2 separate regions of the Homo sapiens genome follow, and region 1 is linked to region 2. The links come from fine-mapping of genetic effects on gene expression. A gene starts in region 2. The other region holds a variant in brackets. All regions are shown on one strand. Distances are from middle to middle. Region 1 has its middle 62 kb from the start of MIR146A. Region 2 holds the start of CCNJL (cyclin J like).

Region 1 (11,718 bases), 230 kb before region 2:
CCAATTAGAGCCCAGGCCACCAAGCCCGTCTAACCCTGACAACTATCCAGCACTCAGAAAGTTTGGGATTGAGAAGGATAATAAGAGTGCCCACCATGATAACTACCGTTTCTTAAGCATTTACAGTATTTTAGGTCCTGTACTGATGCTCTGCCTACAACTCTTATCTTGGATATCCATACAAGGTATCTCCATTTCTGTTTTAGAGAGGAAACTAAAGCTCAGAGACATTAAGTTATTTACAAATGGCCACATGGCTAGTATGAGGCAAAGCTGGATTTTAACTTTAGTTCCTCCAATCCCAAAACCTGTGTTCCTACCCACCAAAGTCTGGATTGTTCTGGATCAGTCTTAAGCTTCTATCATGACAGGAGACATCGCTTACCTGCTTAGAAAGTTTCAATAGCACCTTAGTGCCAACAACTGATTCTCAAATCCAGTATTAGATGTCAGCCAAATGCAACAACTCACCATTGCCCAGCTCCTACCCAGGAGTTCTCCTTTAACTCTGCCTTGATGGCTCCCTGGCTTAAGTAGTTTTAAAATATCCCCAGATGATTCTAATTTGTAACCATGGTTGATAACAACCGCTCTGGTCTACTCAACAGAATTGTTTTGTTTTGTTTTGTTTTTTCTATGTCATCACGTTTTTTCATAGATCACTGACTCCTGGTAAATTTATAATGCACTTTTAAAAATCCAACTCAGTTTCCCAACTCTCTATCAAGTTTAACAGGTGGACAAAAATATATCCCATGTTTACAGCACTTACTTCTTTCCAAAGCATTCTCAGGTGCCTTCATCTCAATTGAGCCTCATGACAGCCCTGTGAGGCAGACAGATGGAACAAATGTTATTATTCCTCTTTAAGATGACAAAACTGAGGCTTAGGAAAGAGACGTTCCCAAGTTCACAAAGCAACTGCATGGCAGAGCTGGGACTAGAATCCAGGTCTCCATAGGGCAGTGTCTCTCCAACTTTAAAGTCACTAAGATACACTGGGATGCTTGTCCTAATGCAGTGTCCTTGGCTTCAAACCCAGAGGTCCTGATTCCGTAAGTCTTCAGAGAAGCACAAGTACCTTCATTATCACCAGTGTGATTCTGATGCATAGACTCCAAAATCTCCATTAGTGAAACACTGCCATTGAGGAATTCTTCAGTCAATTACTTTGAATATTACCCTGCCCAGAAGAAAGGGAAAGGACCAGCTGATCTAATTCAAGATTCTTTCCAAACCCCTGGTATTTCATTTGCTTTCCCCTTTACTCTCTCTTATTGCCTGCTAATATCTTTCCAGAGAAATAATAATCAAAGACAAACTCTAGATCAGTGATGGTCAATGAGTTTCAGTTCAGCATTCTACCTCAGATCAACCAGCAGTGTCTTCTTAGAGCCTTGGATTAAGAAGCAATGAGGCTAAAAAAGAACAAGATCATGTCCTTTGCAGGGACATGGATGTAGCTGGAGGCCATTATCCTTAGCAAACTAACGCAGGAGCAGAACAGCAAATACTGCATGTTCTCACTTACAAGTGGGAGCTAAATGATGAGAACACATAGACACATAGAGGGGAACAACACCCAATGGGACCTATTGGAGGGTGGGAGGAGGGAGAGAATCAGGAAAAATAACTAATGGATATTAGGTATAATACCTGAAATAATCTGTACAACAAACCCCCATGACACAAGTTTACCTATGTAACAAACCTGCACAGATACCTCTGAAGTTAAAATAAAACTTTAAAAAAAAAAAAAGAAGAAGAAGCAGCAATGAGGCTGCTCCCAGGCATGGCAGGAAAGTAAACTACGACCAGTTAGTCCTATCTGTCATGGGCACAGTGAGGATTCTGGCAGCCTTGCACTTTCATTGTTCTAGAGAGTGCTTCATCTCCAGTTCTGTTCTTATTTTTCTAGTTAGAGAATATTTCTACAAAGAGAGACCTAGTTTCTGACTATAGATAGTAAGAAATGAATTTTATAAATTGCTTCTATGCTGCCCATAAACTATGGGTTCTGCTTGGGACATTCTGGATGCCATGATTCAGATGTAAATATCCCCTGAAATCCATCAATGTCTGGGTAGCTGATTAAGCACCATGGACTATAACAGTGTTCCCTTCTCTAATCTTCAGGCATTTTTGATTTTTGTGAGCTGATGTATTACCGCTGTAAGGGGACTTTCTCACACCTTCTGCTCATGATAACAGATGAGATGTGAAATTGATTCTGAGCACCTAGGAGGGTTATGATTTATCATCACATATTAAGCCTCATGGAGCTTTACTGGATGAATCCCAACTACACTCAGAATCCAACCACACTTCTAGAAAGAGAACATGGAGTGACTCAAGATACATTAAAATCAGATGTTTCACCGTTGACACCCATAAGGGACTCCGTTTCATTCATTCAATCAACAAATATTTACTGAACACCTAGCATGTGCCAGGAAATGTTCTAGGAGCTGCAGATATTGCACTGGACAAGAAAGACAAGGTCTCCTCAGACCCACTTATCCCTAGCGCTGGCTCCCCTCCCTGATTGTAACTGGCACTCACCATTGAGTGAACACACCAACAGCCTGGTGCCTGGGGATCAGTCCTCAAGGTGGCCTGAACTGGACATCATTCCACACTTCTCTGGACTCCAGAAGCTTGAAGGAGTCAACTTGATGATGGCTAATGCCTTTATCATGACTCCATGCTGATCCTTCAATGCAAAGGACGTGCCCACAGAGATCTCTACTGAGGGTGTGTATTCCATGTGAGCCTCCCGGGAAGTCCCTCAGTGGAGGATCAGCTTTGGGCAAAAGACTTACCCAACTGAAAGTATGTAGACAGGAAAGAAATCTCCTTTCTGCTAAACAGTGCCTTAAAATATATTCTTAGCACAAGGTGGGGCAAGGGAAATGGCAGGCAGGGCTTCAGAATCTCATAACAAGGTTTATTTTTAAATAAACACTCCTAAGTCTCTGCTCCCTCACCTCTGAGTTCTGCCTCTGAAGACTTGGGTTGGGTCTAAGTCATATCTATTTTGAAAAAGTCCCCATAGGTGATTCTGATGAATCTAGAAAACATGGCATTCAAGTTTCACTTAGATATAGACCAAGCCTCTGTCAAAACAAAAGGTACAGCCAGGCATGGTGGCACCTGAGGTGGGAGGATTGCATGAACCCAGGAGTTCAAGTTTATAGTGAACTATGATCACACCACTGTACTCCAGCCTGGGCTACAGAGTGAGACCCTGTCTCAAGAAAACAAACAAAAAAAAAGTTACAAGGTACAAATATTGTCAAAGTTGGGGGGAATATAAACCCACTGGGCTGGGAGCCATGAAGCTTGAGTTCTAGACAGCTGTGTGGCCTCAGACTATCTGCTTTAGTTTCTGGGCTCCAGTTTCATTATATGCACAATGAGGGGAAAGGGGTCAACGATTTTTTTTTTTTTTTTTTTTTTTGAGACGGAGTCTTACTCTGTCGCCAGGCTAGAGTGCAGTGGCACAATCTTGGCTTACTGCAACTTCTGCCTCCCGGGTTCAAGCGATTCACCTGCCTTAGCCTCTCGAGTAGCTGGGACTACAGGCGTGTGCCACCACACCCAGCTAATTTTGTATTTTTAGTAGAGACAGGGTTTCACCATGTTGGCCAGGATGGTCTCAATCTCTTGACTTCATGATCCACCCGCCTTGGCCTCCCAGAGTGCTGAGATTACAGGCATGAGCCCCTGCGCCCGGCCCAGTGATTTCTAAAGTGTCTTAAAGAGCTAAGATTATGTGGCTATGTTTTTTCACATTTGCAAGCCAATTTTAAACAGCAATTGACCAGGGTAAATCATTGATAAATAGTTCTTATAGGAAAGTCATGCATATTTTCAACACATTAGTCTTCCACATCAGTCCATTGTGTGTTTAAATGTCAACAGGATCCATAATTAAGCATCTGAGGTGTTCAGTGTGGAATTTTTATAAACTACCCAGTAGCAAATGTCCTTGTGCTATTTGTTCCCCTCTCTTCTGCCTTCCTGCCCCTTACCCCATCCTGTGGGTGTCCACACAACTGGAGTAGTTTGTAATCGGCTCTAAATGGCAGCTACTGGATTTCTCTAATAATATGCCTATAAATCTCTTTTTCTCATTAAAGAATCTAGAGTTGTGTCTTCTGACAGACTTTTGGCAGACTGGCTTTTTGCTTAATCATTTCCATGTGATTCACATCCTTGAAGTTTTTCATTCTGATTGTCCATCCCTCTACACCCCACTCACGTACACATGCATGTGAATATTCTCTGTCCTAATAGCTAAGACAATTCACCAAACAGCACATCAGCTGGCAAACATCAGATTTTTATATCTATTCTTTCTCCATAGAGATAACCTCTTTCAAGATAATGATGTGATTAAAATCTGACTTTCTTGCCCTTTCAAATGAGTTATCTAATCACAACTCTACCCATAGCCAAGCCACAGTGCGAAATCAACAAGAGTAATTCCCTGGGAATCCTTCACCACTTCACAGTTGACTCAGCCAGTGTTCCTCTATAGAATGGGGCTTACATTTTACTACTGCCCTGGAATCATAGCATATTAGAGCAATGGGTCTTTGCAATGATAAGAATCCCACAGCTTCTGTACTCTGCTCTATACTGCCAGCCCTGGAAGCCTACATGCTGCACTTCCCAGATTCCCTTGCCAGGGCTGTTGGTTAGGTTCAGCCAATGTGACTCATTGGCAGCAAGAAAGAAGTCATCCTGGGCGACAGAGCCAGACTCCGTCTCAAAAAAAAAAAAAAAAAAAAAAAAAGTCATCCTGATTCTAGCATTGGCAGAGTTTGCTGTCTCTTCAGCAATTCTAGCAGCAGCAGCATGACACATGTCCCTCTGAGGCCCCAGCACTGCCCATGAAAGCTCCAGACCAGCAGCATCCTTACCAAGAGACCTCCTTCTTCTTTTTAATCCTTAGCATACTCCTTCCTTCTATTCCTCCAGCCCTCTTAACACCTTTATAACTATGGTAGATGATTGGCAGAAAGTGGTCTCAATTAATCCCTTCCCTCTCTCCACAATGCTTTGCAATGTGACTTTAAAGCTTCTCTTATCAAAATATTAATTCCATTTCTCCACCTCTTGAGTCTGGGCTGGTCTTTTCTCTACCTCTTAAATCTGGGCTGGCCTTATGAATTTCTCTGGCCAATAAATTGCAGCCAAAGCATTATGGTATCAGTTCTGATTCTAAATCTAAAGAGACTTTGCATGCTTCCACTGTTACTTTGGGAATCCTGCTGTGCTGCCATATGAACAAGCCCAGGCTAGCCTGCTAGAAGATGAGAGACATCACGGAGTAGAAGCAAGTGGCCCCAGCCAATAACCATCTGATATGGTTTTGCTGTGTCCCCTCCCAAATCTCATCTTGAATTGTAGCTCCCATAATTCCCACATGTTGTGGGAGGGAGCCAGTGGGAGATAATTGAATCATGGGTGCAGTTTCCCCCATACTGTTCTCATAGTAGTGAATAAGTCTCACAAGAGCTGATGGTTTTATAAGGGGAAACCCCTTCCGCTTGGCCCTCTGATTCTCTCTTGTCTGACGCCATGTAAGACGTGCCTTTTGCTTTCCACCATGATTGTTAGGCCTCCCTAGCCACATGGAACTGTGAGTCCATTAAACCTCTTTTTCTTTATAAATTACCCAGTCTTGGGTATGTCTTTATCAGCAGCATGAAAACAGACTAATACACCATCCAGACCCTAGAATCAGAGCCACCCCACTGGCCTGACACTCACCTCAGGCATACAAGGGAACCCAGTACAATTCCAATTACCAGTAGACTTATGAGCAGTAATAAATGATTGTTCTGTGTAGGATATAATAAATTTCTCTTCAAAGGTTTTAGCCTGTAAATTGTTAAGTGCAATGAGTTCTGAGATAAAAAACCAATGTATCAGTATATTCAGCTCCCCTGT[C/T]CTTTGTTCCTCATTTTAAAGTTTAACTCCCTTGTTCTTTACTTCTCCTTGCCCCCAGTTTCAGTAAACAACCCTCTCCCAGCCTCTATCACCTGCTCTGACCTTAGTCACCCTTGGTCACTTGCTCTGACCTTAGTCATCCTTGGTCACCTGCTCTGTTCCTAGTCATCCTGAGTCACCTGTTCTGTAACCATCCTTCCCGCCTAACTACTCACCCCGCCACTCTGGCTTGTACCCCTGCTCTCTTTAAAATAGCCAGTTGTAATTAGCTTACACTGTGTGGTCCAACCCTAGCCAATAGGGGAAAGACACAGCAGTAGGGACCAGCTGCATTAGGATAAGAACCCCTTCCCCTCCCTTGTCCGGTGTGCTTTCACCATTGCTCCATTGGTGAGATGCACCCTTCTATAGAAGTAAATTGCCTTGCTGAAAAAATTTATGCTCAAGTGCTATTTCTTTTGCAGCACCGAAAGTTTATTTCTAACATTCTGTTTTAAGCTACTGGTATTAGTATGTTTTGTTACCCTAAAATAAATAACTGATACAGTAACTGATTCCTTGCATTAAATCTCTCTCCATTGCTGTTTTTCTGACTGGACCATGATTGATAAAGGAAACTTGTAAAAAATGAAAATCTCCAGTTCAAGCACCCCAGGCAATTTTGATATACATGGTCTCAGACCATTCTTTGCCAAACACAGCTTTCAAGGGGCTGAAGACATCATCTTGTCTATGCTTTCCCCTCTCAGGCAGTTAATAGATAAGATCACCCTTAAGGAAAAGCTCAGCCTGTTTAAATACTTGGCAACCGATTCCAATGTCCAATGAATGTCTCATCATTGTCAAGGATTCTTTTTTGCTTAATTACTACCCTCATCCCCTCAAGTGGCAGTTTTTGTCTCTTCTTATTTCTTGCTCAGAAGGAAAAAATAGAGGCTTGTAGATATCCCCCCATGTTTATTGAGTTATAATTGACAAAAAATGTAGATATTTAGTGTGCACAATGTGATGTTTTGATATACATATACACTGTGAAGCGATTACCACAGTCAAGCTAATTAACACATTCATACCTCCTATACAGGTATGTGCCAAATCACATTTCAGTGGATGGATGGCATATGCAACAGTGGTCTCATAGGATTATACTGCATTTTTACTTTACCTTTTCTATGTTTAGATACACAAACACCATTGTTTTACAATTGCCTACAGTATTTAGCACATGCTGTACAGGTTTGTAGCCTAAGAACAATAGGCTAGACCATACAGCCTGGGTGTGTAGTAGGCTCTGCCATCTAGGTTTGTGTAAGCACACTCTATGATGTTCACACCAAGATGAAATCACCTAATGACACACTGCTCAGAATACATCCCTGTCATTAAATGACTCATGACTAGCTACTTTTGTGCCTGTGTGTGTGCATGCGTGCATGCATGTGGAGAGAATGCTTAAGATCTAAGATCTATTCTCTTAGCAAATATCAAGCATACAATACATTATTATCAACTATACTCATCATGCTGTACATTTTATCTCCAGAACTTATTATCTTGTAACTGAAAATTTTTACCCTTTGATCAAAATCCTCCCAGTTCCCCCACCCCCAGTCTCTGGCAACCACTTTTCTACTCTGTGTTTCTATAAGTTCAGTCTCTTTATATTCCACATATAAGTGAGCACATGCAGTGTTTGTCTTTCTGCTTTACCTAACATAATATCCTCTCTGAGTTTATTCATGTTGTCACAAGTGGCAGGATTTCCTTCTTTTGAAGGATATTTTCTATAAGTAAAACATTTTTCCCACCCCTAAGTTAACTAACTCCAGCTAGATTCTTTAAGTGTTCATCTCTGGTCCATTGGAATTATTAAAAACAAACAAGCTCACTTTGGTATCAGACTGATCTTAGATAATCCCTGCTCTACTATGTAACTTTCTGTACATCATCAAGCTCTCTATACCTCAGTTTTCTCACCTGCAAAATAAGGTCTGATGTGAAAAATAAATGAAACAAACTTTGCAGGAACTTAATGTGTCAGGTTTTGTCTTTCTTTTCCCCAAGTCTGTTCTCCAAGATAGAGAGAAAATGAAATACTATGAATATGGTATGGATCCAAAACCCCAGGTTATAAACTTTTATCAGAGCATCATGAACAGACTCTCCCATAATGATGACCAAAAAGGCCCCCACGCCTATGGCTACTGCTGTGAAGGGCCAGTGCTGAAGCCAGCCACATGCCCTGCTCCATGAGGAAGGAACACCCCAGAAAAACCTGCCTCAAGGGAAGATCCAGAAGAGGCTGATCACTACCTCTGAGTTCACCCAAGCAGCGAAAAGGTTTTAATTGGGCAACGAAGGAAAAAAAAAAAGGGAAAGAAGGCAAATTTATATTGCCCAACAACTGTCAACACTTTAAGTACATCTTCCACACTCACTGAAAGAAGCAGAGAACAACAGGTGAGACAAGATCTCAGAGGAAACATGGAGAAGGGGGTTCACATCACATGCCCCATAGTAACCACTTCTCATTTGCCTCATTAGGTCTCTGTTCTCTAAGGCCCTCCTAGGCTTTGCTTGAGGAAAAGGCAGGGAGGGGTCAAGAAGAAAGAGTAGAAGGGAGGCCAGGAAAGAATATCGAGTTTCTCTCTTCTTCCCACACAATGTCCAGCCTCGTTGGATCCTGCCTCCCTCCAAAACACCTGCTTTACTATTTGAACAATTAAGCAGCATTTTTTAATACTTAAGATTCACCCTACCCTAAGCAAAGTCTTTTTTTTAAGACAAAGTGTGCTCCCCAAGAAACAGCCTAATGAATGGAGTTGTCTCCACTGATGTGTATATGTCTGTGTGTGTCTATACACAGTATTCTGTAATCAAAATCCCATATATACACACAATGAATACTGAGAATATACGGTCCTTAATCTCAATTTTATTGAAACATAATTATACATATTTATGTGGTACAGGTGATATTTTGATACATGCATACAATGTGTAATCAGGGTATTTAGGCTATCCAGAACCTCAAACATTTGTCATTTCTTTGTGTTATGAACATCTCAAATGTTCTCTTCCAGCCATTTTGAAATATACAATAAATTATTGTTAACTATAGTCTCCCTACTATACCAGCCAATACTAGAACTTATTCCTTCTATCTAAATGTATTTTATACCCATTAACCAACCTCCATTCATCTTCACCTCCACCCTTCCCAGCCACTGGTAACCATCATTCTACTCTCTACCTTCATGAGATTAACTTTTTTAGCTCCCACTTATGAGTGAGAACACGCAAAGTTTGTCTATCTGTGCCTGGCTTATTCCACTTAACATAATGATCTCCAGTTCCATCAATATTTCTGCAAATGACAGGATTTCATTCTTTTTTATGGATGAATAGTATTCTATTGCATATATATACCACCTTTTCTTTATCCATTCATCTATTGATTGACACTTAGGTTGATTCCACATCTTGGCTATTGTGAATGGCACTGCAATAAACATGGGGGTGCAATTGTCCTTTTGATGTACTGATCTCCTTTCCTTTGGATAAACACCCAATGGTGGGTACTGCCAGACCATCTCGCAGTTATTTCTATTTTTAATTATTTGAGAAACCTTCATACTGTTTTCCATAAGGGCTGTACTAACTTACATTTCTACCAACAGTGTATACACCAACAGTGTATAATTTTCCCCAAAGCCTTACTGACATTTGTTATTTTTTTGTCTTTCTGACAATAGCCGTTCTGACTGGGGTGAGATGATATCTCATTGTGGTTCAGATTTGCATTTTTCTGATGATGAGTGATGTTGAGCTGGAAGAGAAGTTCAATGACCTTGGCCAACCCATCTCCTTCTCTACACCTCTGCCCACACCAGGTAAATTATGTAGAAATTAGACCAGATAATGTCTAAAATCCCTTCCAGCCCTGAATATTCATATGGTAAATTCTTCCCCAACATTTTGTTATATTCTGAGTTTTATTCTCTTCCTTACGAAGGCAACTAAAGAGCATTAGGGGAGAAAAGGGAAAAGCAAATGCTATAGAAGTGTGTTTATTAACCAACATAGAGAAATAAAAAGGCAACAGAGGGGATTCTATTTATATCTCCCTCAAGGATTATGCCATAATCTGTATTATTTGATTTTTTAATGCATTCATTCAGAGCTGGAGCCCTGTAGGGTGCTCTTTAAGCCTGACACTGAATGAAATAATTCAATTAAAATAAGCTTGAAGCCTTTTCAAGGCATTAAACTCCCTGAAGAGAAGATTTAGGACTGGCTCGAGTTGGTTTTAGCATCAGCATTGGTGAGACCATAGGAAAGCATCGGAAGGGTTTGGCAATGAGTGATTCTGGAGGCATTAGAAGATGTGAGTTCCAGGCTGCTTGGAAAGGGACTATCAATATTGGAACTGTGCTTCAGGGAAAACAGACTCTTCCCCAAAGCTTCTAAACAATTCACTGGAGTCTGACATTCATTTTATCATATACTCCAGATAAAACCTATTCTTCCATATAAGAAAAGGAAGTTTAATAACTATTGATAACAATATGCCATTCATTGAGTGTTCTTTATATCCTAGATTTCCTCATGTTCCATGCATTATTTTATACAGTCTTCACAACTGTCTGAAGTTAAAAATTATCAAGCCCATTTTATAGATGAGGAAACTGAGGCTGCCAAGAAGTGCCTTGATTTGCCCCAGATTACACAGCTAAGAAACTGCAGATTCAAACCCCCAAGTCCATGGTGCCAAAGCTAGTGCTCTTCAGCACTATACTACTTAAAATGCAAGCAACATGTTATTGCAGGAAATGGAACTGGGAAGAGGGCTAGGAGAGAAGCGTGTCCATACAAAGAAATAGAGACACAGTCCCTTCCCCCAGGGGCACACTGTCTGGCTTGCAAACATGATTCATCCTCAGAATAGCTTGAACTAAATTAAAAATGACTAAAGTTAGAGCCATACCTGAGAGCAAGTTTTCACGTGGGCAGGACAGAAAGAAGGGGATTAAGGAAGAGAAAGGTATGATATGGACACGCTAAGGACCTAAGTCACCCTTCGCAAGTCTGCCCAAGGCCAGAGCAGCTACCTAGGTTTTTTTGTTTGTTTGTGTTTACACTGGGCATTCCATGGCACTAGGAATTCTGTCTTCCTCATCCAGCTGCATATCATCAGTACCTGGCACCTATATTTTGTTTGGAGTGGGGCATGGTCAGGGGATTTCAGATATATATCATGTCAGGTATAAGAGATGCTAAAGGCTAAACTGACCACTCTGAATTTCTAGCCCTAGTTTGGTGGTTTGAAAACTTAAGTGTATGTTAGAATCACCTTGGGAGCTTGTTAAAACACAGATTGTTGACCCCTAATCCCAGAATTTCTGATTCAGTAGATGGGAGAAGTTTTATATTTCTTACTAGTTCCCAGGCAATGCTAATGCTGCTCCTTCAGAGTCTAGCCCTTTGAGAATCAGCAGCAACCTCCATTGTGCATGAGAATCACATTGGGGAGCTATGAAAACGTTTAGGCCATCCTCCTGATAAATTACATCAGAATCCCCGTGGGTGGGGCCAACGTATGCACGTTTTTAAAAACTGGGTATTCCGTGTGCAGCCATACCACAAAGTAATGTAGAAGATACGTGAGCCTGAAATTAGTGCACCATAAAAGTAACTAATATTTACTGAGCACTTAGCATGTGACAGTCACCCTACTAAATATGTTACCACATGATC
Region 2 (11,718 bases):
TGAGATAGTTTTTGGACAGTTTACGGAGCCCTCTCTCAACTTGTTGTGAGTTCTTTCTAAAAATTTTTTATTGAGATATTTTTAAAATATGCTATTTAATGTCATTTTCAGCAAAGAAAAATTCAAAATGTAAAGTATTAGCAAGAGTTTTTATCATTTATATTATGCATGCCAGTTTTAAATGCAAAAATAAGAACACAGCTCACATGCAAAATCACTGAAATTACACAAATTCTATTTTGTAGCCTGAACATGCATATATATTTCATTCTTTCCGTAATGGTGAAAACACTCCACAAAATTAAGTTAACTATTTTTATTTCACTCTCGATACATGCACATCCAATCAACACGCTCTACCTTAGGCATAATACTAATGAGTAAGGAAGAGCTGAAGGAAGAGGAACTATGGGTTGCCCCATTTTTCCCTTTCTATTTATGTCATAATACATGGTTGCCTAACACAGGGACACAACACCCCTAAGAAAGCATATGATAGGGTTCCCCGGTCATTCATCTTTCCTAGAATACTATTGCCTTCTGTTATGGATTGAATGGTGTACCTCCACAAAAGATAAGTTGAAGTCTTAACCCTCAGTAGCTCACAATGTGACCTTATTAGGAAATAGGTTCATTGCAGATGTCATTAGTTCAGATGACATCATATTGAGTAGGGTGGGCCCTTAGTCCAATATGACCGGTGTCCTTGTAAGAAGACATGGCCCGGCGTGGTGGCTCACGCCTGTAATTCCAGCACTTTGGGAGGCCAAGGTGGGTAGATCACCTGAGGTCAGGAGTTCAACACCAGCCTGGTCAACATGGTGAAACCCTGTCTCTACTAAAAATACAAAAATTAGCCAGGCATGGTGGTGCGTGCCTGTAATCCCAGCTACTGGGGAGGCTGAGGCAGGAGAATTGCTTGAACCCTGGAGGCAGTGGTTGCAGTGAGCCGAGATTGTGCTACTGCACTCCAGCCTGGCAACAGAGTGAGACTCCATCTCAAAAAAAAAAAACAAAAAAAGAAGAAGAAAAAGAAGACTACGTGAAGAGAAAGAGAAGAAGCCCGTGTGAAGACACAGGCAGGGTCTGGAGTGCTGTAGCTACAAGCCAAGGAAGAACAAGGGACTCCAGTTGTAATACCTGGCCACCCCCAAAAACCAGGAAGAGGAAAAAAGAATTTTTCCTTAGAGTTTTCAGAGGGAGTGTGGCCCTACTGATGCCTTGATTTGGGACTTCTAGTACCCAGAATCGTGAGAGAGGAAAGTTCTCTTGTTTCAAGCCATCCCATTGTTGTACTTTGTTATGGCAGCCCCAGAAACTGATAACACCTTCTTTCCGTGTTCCAAAGCAAGTTCTAGTTCAAATAGAAAGCACAGCCTCTCAGGTACTCCCCCCACCCCATGCCCACTTGTACACATGATCCACTGACCTTCTGCTCCCTTTGAATGTCACCAAACTCCATGCATCGCAGGTCCACTGGAATTCTATGCTCATGAGGCACGGGATATAGTACATGCAAACAGAGAACGGAACAGCAGACACTTATCATGTGTCTCCTCTGCTCCCTGCATGCTTCACTGTCCTGAAGGACTTCATTTACAAAACACAGGTTCAACGATAAAATTTTCTATATGGATGGAGCTGGCCCTGCGTGAGAGGGAGGTTTATTTTTCACTTATTCCTTCTGTGCCTTTTTAAATTTAAAAAAGTAATGTGGACCAGCTTTATGAATGTCCTAGGCTTTGAGTTCTGTTTGCAAAATGCTGCTTTTTTATTCTTCCTGCCTTGTTCTCAGACCTAATCTGCCGACTCATATCTCAAGAACTTGTAGTCAAGGATCATAAAGGATTTGGCAAATGTTCTCTTGACTAAGTAGAGCACACGATTAAAAATCATTTAAAGGCATTGGATTGGTTTTTGGTTAAAGATCAAAGTGGTAATAAGGCAGATGTCTTCCGTCTGTCTCTATAAACTGAGCCAGGCTTCATGCTTTTGGTCCTGAATGGAGCAGTGCCAACCATTAACACCATGAGGAAACACTATTCAAAGTATATGCCTCAACTTCCCCTGGACAGTTGAGTATTTGAGGAATTTATATGCTTGACCCTGTCAGGATATTCACTGCAGTATGGTTACATGGAAGCAAATATTCACTGCAGTGTGGTTATATGGAAGCAGAAGGCTAGAAATGTATGGACATTCCCAGGCTAAATGTCCACACATCATGATGGATCCATACTATGGAACTACGGGATGCCATGCAGTTCTTTGGGCACTGCCATAAAACAACAAAACACAAAACAGTAAGGCACACAAGGATGTGTAGAGTATGCTACCTTTCATGTAAAAGGAGAAAAAGGCATGAATGTCTACACTGGTGAATGCATAAATCACTTCCGAAGGAAACATAAGACTCTGGTTATCATTGGGGAGGAGGAGAACAAGGCCTGGGACCAGAGGGAGAACGTGTACATTTTTCCATGTTTGAGAGTTTGTATCATATGAAAAGCAAAAGGAAAGTTCAGTGCAAACTGGGCAGTTGATAATATCACAGTGAAAATATTAGACCAATTTGTCCTCTAAGGAAGATTGAAAAGGGCAGATTTTTTTTTTTTTAGGGATATATAAGAAAGCTGAAGATAAGTAGAATGCACTTGCTCTAAATCTGTTGTTCCCAACCTGTGAGCTTCAGAGGTTGAGGGTGGAGGGATGGTAACTGACTCATGGTAAGCACTTAATGAAAGTTTAGTTTTTGAATGGCTTAATGAATGCTTCTTCTTGTCTTGGTTGGGGGTGGATGGGAGAAGTGATTCCAGTTGCATTGGTACTTCCTGCTGCCCGGCACAGGAAGCCTTCTCTGCTAAGGGCACCTGTGGACAGTGACTCAGCACAAAACCATCTGTTTATTGGTGCAATGTATATTTACTCTTCAGAAATACTGAGAAAATGAGGGACTCTGGAGAATGATACACAAAGGGGTGTGGAATGAGTATGCTTAGAATCCTACTGAAATACCCCTGGAGAAAAGCCCAAAGCTTCTGCTTTCCCTCTTAGTTATCCAAACTCCTGATAATTGATAGCTGAAGTTTAGGAAAAGGGCAGTACATATTAGTGAATAATAAAGGCCTGTCTTCTTTCAATGTACCCAGCATAGAAAGACTGGGAAATAAATAATACTGCTATGAAAAACAAAACAAAACAACAATGCTGTTCATTGTTGTTGAATGGAAGAACCCTCTAGTACATATTGATATGTCATGTGATTATTTTAAAGTAACATTCACTCTTTTTTTCTGGTTATGAAATAATGCATATTTCTTGTTGAAAATTTAGAAAATACAGAAATATTAGGAAAAAAGGTAAATTAAAATTTACCATAATCCTACCACTCTGATTACACAGTTAATATTTTTGCATATGTGTGTGTGCATGAATGTAGTTTAACTGGGATCGTACTCTAATCTTTTTTTGTTTTTATTCATCCCCTTAAAGACAGCTTATTCTTTCTCTTGTTTTTGTTTTTGTTTTCAGAGGCAGTGTCTCGCTCTGTTGCCCAGGCTGGAGTGCAGTGGCACAATCACGGCTCACTGCTGCCTCAACCTTTGGTGCTCAAGTGATTCTTCTATTTCAGCTTTCTGAGCAGCTAAGACTACAGGTGTATACCACCACACCTGGCTAGTGTGTGTGTGTGTGTGTGTGTGTGTGTGTGTGTGTGTGTTGGGGGGCGGGGGCGGGATCTTGCTATGTTGCCCAAGCTGGTCTTGAACTCCTGGCCTCATGCAATTCTCCCACCTCAGCCTGCCAGTGTGCTAGGATTACAGGCATGAGCCACCGTGCCCAGCCCAGTTTATCCTTTTTATTTAATAAATTATAAACATTTTCTCCAATTCATCATGCATCCTTTAAAAAATGCTTTTAAGAGACAAATAATTATTAAACCAGTTCCCTGTTCTAATGGTTCACTATGATGAAAAAGCATTTTTGATGAAACACCTTTGAAATAAATCTGCTTTTTTTAAAAGAATAAATTTCTACAGGTGGAAGAGTTGGATCAAATAATACAGTTTAAAATGTTTTGATTTATGTTGTCTTTCAGAAAGATGGTCTTAATTTATATTCCCAACAACACTGTGGATTGACCAAAATTCCTTAACAAAAAAGTACCCCACTGTTTTTTTAAAAAAAGCTTTTAATTTGCATGCTAGGGAGTATGAGCATTTTAAAAATAACATCTATCCATATGAATTCCTTCTCTGACGGCATACCTACTCATGTCTTGCATCCATTTCTGCACGTAGGGTGTTAATGTTTTACATACCGATTTATCAGAGGTCTAGAAAGTAGCATCAACCTTTTGTCACATTTGTTAAAAATATTTTCTCAAATTTGTCGTTTGCCTTTTTGGCAATGATAATTGATGTATCTAGATCCTGCATATTTATTCAAATTTGTCTACTCACCTTGCCTTTGGTTTCTTCCCATGTCTTAGTATCTAGGCCTTCCCCTCCGTATAATTCGTGTATGTTTTCTTCTTATCCTCTTGTGATTTGCTTGTTTGTAGTTCTCTGAGTTCTTATATTTATTTTGGTGATATTTAAACAAGTCCTTAGTTTTACTTTTTTCCCCCAACCTAATTTATTAAATAATTTAGCCGTTTATACTTGTCCCAACAAAGTGAAATGCCACATTTATCATACAGTGAATTTTTAAATATATTAAATTTTCCTAGACTTTCAGTTATTCCACTGATGCTTAATCCATCCATTCTTGTGTGAACACTACACTGTTTTAACTATAGTGTTGCAATATGCTTTAAGATTTGATAATACAGGTCTGTCCCCCCAGTTTTTTTGTTCGTTTGTTTGTTGAGACGGAGTTTCACTCTTGTTGCCCAAGCTGGAGTGCAGTGGCACGATCTCGGCTCACTGCAACCTCCGCCTCCCAGATGCAAGTGACTCTCCTGCCTCAGCCTACCAAGTAGCTGGGATTACAGGCGTGCACCACCACACTCGGCTAATTTTTTGTATTTTTAGTAGAAACAGGGTTTCACCATGTTAGCCAGTTTGGTCTCAAACTCCTGACCTCAGGTGATCTGCCTGCCCTTGGCCTCCCAAAGTGTTGGGATTACAGGCGTGAGCCACCGCGCCCCGCCATCCCCCCATTTTTAAAATATAAATTTCTTAGCTTTTCTCGCAGATATTCTCCCATTTGAAGGTTAGAAAACATGTTAAGTGCCCCCTCCTCCAATCTACCCACAACCATTAAAATTTTATTAAATAGAGTAATTTGGGTTAAGTTGGTGTTTGTGCCTCTATTCCTTCAAGCCTTCTTTATTATGTTTCAACCTTTGTAATGTCTTCATTAAGAGCCTGCACATTTATTCAGTTTATTTTTAGGTATCTTACACTTTTAAAATGGTTCGTTTGTTTTACATTAAAACTGCTCTTCAAGGTCCAATTGAAGCTTATCAAAGCTGATTTAATTTTTTTTTCCCAGGTGTGTCTTTATGTGCAGGAAAGCAGTCAGAAACTAAAGGCTCTTCAGTCACAGTTGTTTACTGAGTGTTCACTTAATACCTGGTGTAGTGATTATCCCTTTACACGCATTATCTCCTTTAATTTTCAGCAGGTTGGTTTAACTTTTATTTCCATTTTACACACGAGGCTCTGAGTTTGAGGAACTTGACAAAAATCACCCAGTTGGTAAGTGGATTTGATTCCAAATTTGTGAATCTCCAAAACTATCACAAAAATCAATCAGCCAAGAAGGATAGCCCAATGCTATGCCATCAGATGGGCTGACTCAAAAGGATGACTTTCCAAAAGCAAGCAATTGAATTAAAAAGACAATGTTTTCCATCCACCGGACCCGGCAAAAAAAGACTGGTTTTCCTCCAATGTGAGGCATAGTTCATATTCTGCAGGAGCACAATAATACCAGTGACTTAGGCTCCTTTAGAATTAGGGACTCGTGGGTGAACAAGGGTGGTTTTTCTGCAGCTTTCACTGGAATTGTCCGTTTGGAAATCTACCTCCCCATGGCAGGGCGGGTTTCAAAGAAGAGGAGAACAAACAAAAAACAAAAACAGGAAAAAAAAAAAAAGAGAGAGAGAAAGAAAAACAGGTGGAACCGACGTAAGGATGGCTAGAGCAGTGCGCGCGGAAGGCAGAACTTTCTGGGGGCGTCCTGTCCGCACGTTTCACGCGTGGTGCGCGCAGGTGGCGCCGCGGTCCCTTTGCTCCCTGCGCAAGCCGGAGGGGTGCCCAGAAGGCTACCACTAGCCTCAGCGAAGGTGAGAGAGAAGCTTTCCGCCGAAGCGAGGGAGGAGGGCGGGCAGGAAGCGGAGCCAGAGCTGGCAAAGAAAGGCTCCAATTCCCAGCCCCCCGCCCCGCGGGGCGCGGGGGCGCCGGCAGCGCATGCGCGAGGCCCGGCCCCCAATTCCCCCAGCGAGGGAGGGAGGCCCCCGGCGGCCGGGAGCCTGCGAGCCGCGGCGGGACCCGAGCGCACGCAGGGGCGCGGCGACGGCGGGGGCTAGTCGGGCTGCGGAGGCGGCCGTCGGGAGTGCGGAGCGCCTCGGACGAGGGTCCAACCGCCGGCAGGCACCAGAGGGCACGGCTGGCTCGGCACTGGGAGGGGCCCGGCGCTCGCAGCCCCCCACGCCCAGAGAGGATGCGTGAGTTTCGCCCCGGCTCGAGGGCAGGATGTGGGAGCAGGACAAAGGCTGGGCGGCGGGGGAGGAGTTGGGGACGGCGAGCCTGTGGCCGCCGCCAGAGCCCCAGCCTCGAGCGAGCTAGCGGAGTTGACAACTTTCTCTGCAACTTTTGCAAAAGGGAAGATAAAAATTCTGCAAGTTGTTGCACAGCTCCATATCGCCCCGTGTCCGGCGAGCAGAGGGGAGGGGGCACCGCAGCCTTCCGCGGACCAGAGGCGACCTCCAGCTCCTCTGAGCGGCGCAGGAGGGGGCGCCCGCCGGGGCCCGGGGCCAGGGGCGAGAGAGGATAGGGACACCGGGGGTCGGAGCCCGGGGTACGCTCTGGCCGCTGAAGTTGCCCGTGTCCACGCAGGGTGCGCCCTGAGAGCCGGGTAGCCTCGGATAGCGGCGCTGCGTACGCGATGATGGATGAGCCGTGGTGGGAAGGGCGCGTCGCCTCGGACGTCCACTGCACCCTGCGCGAGAAGGTCAGTCCCTCCCTGCCCTTGTCACTCTCAAGACTGGGTACAGTCTCCTTCGGTCTCGACTTCGTGTTCTCAGGTCGCCTGCGTGGGAACTCAGAACTCCCGGGTGCCTTTTTTTCCTCTTACCCTTTACCTTCTCCCGGAGTGTCTGAGCGGAATTGGGGGGCGGGGGTTAGAGACTGGAGATGGGAGAGATTGAAGTTGGTTTTTCTGATAAGGAGCTCAGAACTCTGGGCCAACTAGTCAGAGACAGCCACTGTACCTCTAAGGCAGTGTTTCCTATAGTATTGCCACCCTAGGTTATTTTAAACCGTACGTGAAGGGGTCTTTAAAAAATATTGTGTATTCATTCTAATGTGTAATTTAAGAATGTGTATGTATCTAGCAAGCTCTGCGTTTGCGATTTTCCATTTATTGTAATAATGATGTCGCAGTTTATTTTAAAACAAATTTAAGTAAAAGTAGTAACTCTATATAAAGATAAGTGGTAGTACAGGGAATACATGGTTATGGCCAAATACGTGTATCTATGTGTATATCTAGAATGGGACCGAATGAAATTTAAGGAACACCTGTATAATTGAAAGAGGCTACAAAACAGGGAGGCTGAGGGAAGAAAACAAAAACTCCCCTGCCGGTTTGCCTCCTGTGGCAGAAGGTGGGTGGGAGCAGCTGAAATGTGATCCCTGCACACCCCTCCCCTCAAGGAGAGAAGGGCTGAGGGGCATTGGGAAGGTGGAAGAGTCCAGGTGGGCTGGAGGCATGGCCTGTGTGTCTTGCCTCCAGTCCCTGGGCTGAGATTGGCAAGGGGTGGCTTGGGGAACAGGTGTGAAGTAGTGAATGGATTGGTTTCCTAGGGCTGCCATTACAAAGGACCACACAAACTGGAGGGCTTAAAGCAACAGAAATTTATTTCAGCTCTGGAAGCTGAAGATCCCAGATCAAGGTGTTAGCAGGGCCATGACTCTCAAAAGGCTCTAGAGAAGGATCTTTCCTTCTTCCTTCTTAAATTTGCTGGTGCTTGGTCATCCTTGGCATTCCTCGGCTTGTAGGTACATCATTCCAGTCTCTGCCTCCACTGTCACATGGTGCTATCTGTCTGTCTGTTTTCTCTTCTTACAAGGATACCCGATCATTGGAGTAGAACCCACCCTAATCCAATGTGATGTCATCATAATTTAATTACATCTGAAAAGACTCCATTTCCAAGTAAGGTCACATTCTGAAGTTCCAGATTAACATGACATTTGGGGGGACACTACTGCGCCCAATACAGGGAGGAAAAGGTCTTCCTAGTGCAGTACCTGAGCCCCCACACAGGTTTCACAGTCAGTGCATTTGCTCCGAGTGTCTGGAGGAGTTCTGCTTAAAGGGTCACCAGCTACTCAGTGTTTTTACCTCATTGAGTAGCTGTCTTCCTGTCCAATTAATGCCTTTTTCTTTTCTTTCTGTACCTGCTGACCTGTCTTTGTCCTGCGTTGCTTGGCAAGGCTGTGGCTTTCATCTGTTCCCTTGGTCTTCTTCCCAGAACAGAGTGGCCAACGTGTGGCACATTCTAGGCATCTGGACAAGAAGAAATCCAGGTCTTGTTGGTTCAGTTGAAAAGCAAGGAAAGTGGTAGGGGTATGGTCCTGGCCCTTTTCTGGAGGAGGTGGCTGAATGGAGCTAGTGAGGACTGCCGTGGAAATTGGGCTTCCTTGTTTATCATAGACTCAAGTGGTTGTCATTTCTGCTCATAGCTTAGGAGGAACGACTTCTACCTGATTTGCCCCTTTCTAGAGGGAAGGATTTCTAAGAGCAATAAATGCCATTTGTTTAGTTACCTGAGAATGCCCAACCTTTTATACATAAGGGAGGATGTCCTAAATGTTCCTTCGGCTGCTCAAAGAAGCAAGAAAGGCTCCATGAACTGCTATAGCCATGTCATAGTGCCGTATGAGTTTACTATTGGGCTGCCCACCTCGGAGAGACGATGAGTTTGTCCCAGTTTTGCAGGTTAGAAATAGAAAGCTCACCCAAGGACTGATGGCCAAGGTCAACCTTGACTTAAAGCTGGCCTTATTAGGACAAATCCCAAGTTCCTTTGGTTATAATGTCCCACCTCCTCAAAATACTGCTATTGTTCTCCTTTACTTTATTTCCTCTCCCACTTCAAAGAAGAAAATGCTTCTTCAAAAATTTGGCTTCATGGAGTTTGGCAAGAAGAGTGAAGAATAGGGGAACTTAGTAGCCATACTAGCCTCGCCTTTCTTGAGGAATGAGGGCTGGCATTTTGTTTTTCTCAGACAGGGTAATTGTTTTTCTCAAATGTCTACTCTGATAATATGTTTCTAACACTGTAGAACAACTTTACAAGAGCGTGGCACACAGTAGACACTCTTAGTTGAATGTTGCCTGATGAATACAAAGCATGTTTACATATGTGCTGTGTAACTGTTTCCATACAACCACAAGCAATTATCCTCACCTGACCGACACAGGAGGCGAAGTTGAGATCACTGAGACGTTGGGAGCCCCAGTTTGTCAAATATGAGATTCCAGTCTGGCATCATACTACAGGGTATCAAAAACTTGACACCATGGAAACAAGTCTTGGTACTGCATGCACGCTAGTGATGGAAGTGAAACCCTGATCTGCTCATTTAACCTCTCTAAATCTGGCCCCTATCATCCATTCTTCCCAGAATAGCCAGAATTTAGATTGTGTCATTCTCTGCTTAAAGACCTCCAATGTCATCTCACTGCACTTAAAATTCCCAGTCCTTACCACTGCGTGGAATACCCAGCATAGCCTGGCTCTGGCCTGCTCTCTGACCTTGTCTCTTACCCCTTCCCTACCCTCCATGCCATTGCTCTTAAGCCACACTGACCTCCTTTCTGTTCCTGGAACAAGTCAAGCTTGTTCATGTCTCAGGGTCTTTGCACTGGCTCTTTCCTCTATTTGGATTCTGTGTTTCTCAGACTCTCACATGGTTGCTTGTCTCCCTTAATCTATTGCTGCCTCTCCATGTCACTCTATTAAATCACCTTGCTTTTTCTTTGTAGCATTTACCAGGATCTGAAGTGTTTTTCTGTTTTTTGTTTGTTTGGTTGGTTGGTTTCTTTGAGACGGAGTCTCACTCTGTCGCACAGGCTAGAGTGCAGTGGCACTATCAGCTCAGTGCAACCTCCGCCTCCCGGGTTCACACCATTCTCCTGCCTCAGCCTCCTGAGTAGCTGGGATTACAGGCATGTGCCACCACACCCAGCTAATTTTCGTATTTTTAGTAGAGACGGGGTTTCACCTGTTGGTCAGGCTGGTCTCGAAGAACCCCTGACCTCGTTATCCGTCAGCCTCGGCCTCCCAAAGTCCTGGGATTACAGGCGTGAGCCACCGTGCCTGGCCTGAAGTTATTTTTCGTTTGTTTGCTGCCTTTCTTCCCACACTAGAATACATGCTACACGAGAAGAGACCTGTGTCTGTCTTCTTCCTTGCGGGGGCCTCAGTGCCATGAACACAGCTTCCCGATGTGTATGGAATGACAAGGAGAATGAATAAGTCAGTCTTCGCTTTCCTCTTCTGTAAGCTGGGAGAAACGTTTTACAGCAATGTTAAGATTAAGTGAGATAACTTAAGAACAGTGTGAGGTGCATGGTGGGTACTTGGCAGGCATTGCACCTCTCCACTTAGGGTTGCTGCAAGACAGTGATGGCCCGTTCACATAGTGCTGCTCAGAGTAAGGCTTAGGGTTTGTGACCACCCTCCAAGGGGTCCACAGATGTGATGGGTAATCCTTGTAAGAAAGGCACTGTTAGCCACTTGGACCATTGGTCCTATGATGGTGTTGAAGTCAGGAAAGGGACTAGTTCACCAAAAATCATGTATCTACTGAGGGCTGGGAACCAGGAGTGAGACCCCATTGGTAAGACCCTCTAAGCAGCCTGGCATCCCAATGGGTGAATGTGGGGAGTTGAACCCTCCTCCAGCCCAAATTGCTCTGGAGAAATCTCTCCCTCCCCTTCCTGTAGGCCACCTTTATCCCATGCTCAGCCCTTAAATTCCTCCTTGGATCCTTCTTCCTGTCCCTGCTGCATCTGCAGAAGCCCACCTAGGACCCCGCTCCCTTCAGCTCCTCTGACCTTTCTGCTGGGGGTGGGAGTGCCAGCCAGTACAGGGATGTGGGGTTTCTTGCCTGCTACGTGTGCCCCTTGACCCTCTTCCCTGAACCAAAAGGAGGAGTAGATTGTCACCAGGCTGGCGTCACCAGTGAGGAGGCTGCTAGTGATGTTTTTCTGGTAACCAAGTCTGTGCCAGGTCTGTCCAGATTAAAACTCGGGGCCATTTGTTTTTTTCTTGAAAGATGCATCCACCTAAGTTTAAAATTAATAGGGTGTTGAATCCAAGAACTAACAGATTTTGGTGAGTGCTGGTTACACATGATGGAACGAGAGCATTGGATGGTATGCAGCTTGAGGGCCACGTTCCTTGTCCCTTAAGCCTCTCCTTTGTCATGTGTCCTGGCCCCACCCTCATCCTTGCTTCTTTCACCATCTTTGTCACCC

The links.
Region 1: its variant is fine-mapped to the expression of CCNJL in left ventricle (GTEx, PIP 0.96).

What each region holds. Positions count from the first base shown.
Region 1 is chr5:160,541,648-160,553,365 of GRCh38, reverse strand. No RefSeq gene overlaps it. Among named protein-coding and RNA genes, the nearest start is that of MIR146A, 62 kb to the right of the region's middle. The variant C/T (reference allele first, on the strand shown) is at 5,962.
Region 2 is chr5:160,307,319-160,319,036 of GRCh38, reverse strand. CCNJL (cyclin J like) reads left to right here and starts at 6,473. Exons shown (of 6, transcript NM_001308173.3): 1 at 6,473-6,673; 2 at 7,065-7,179. The coding sequence starts at 7,114. RefSeq lists silencers at 6,255-6,314, 6,425-6,544.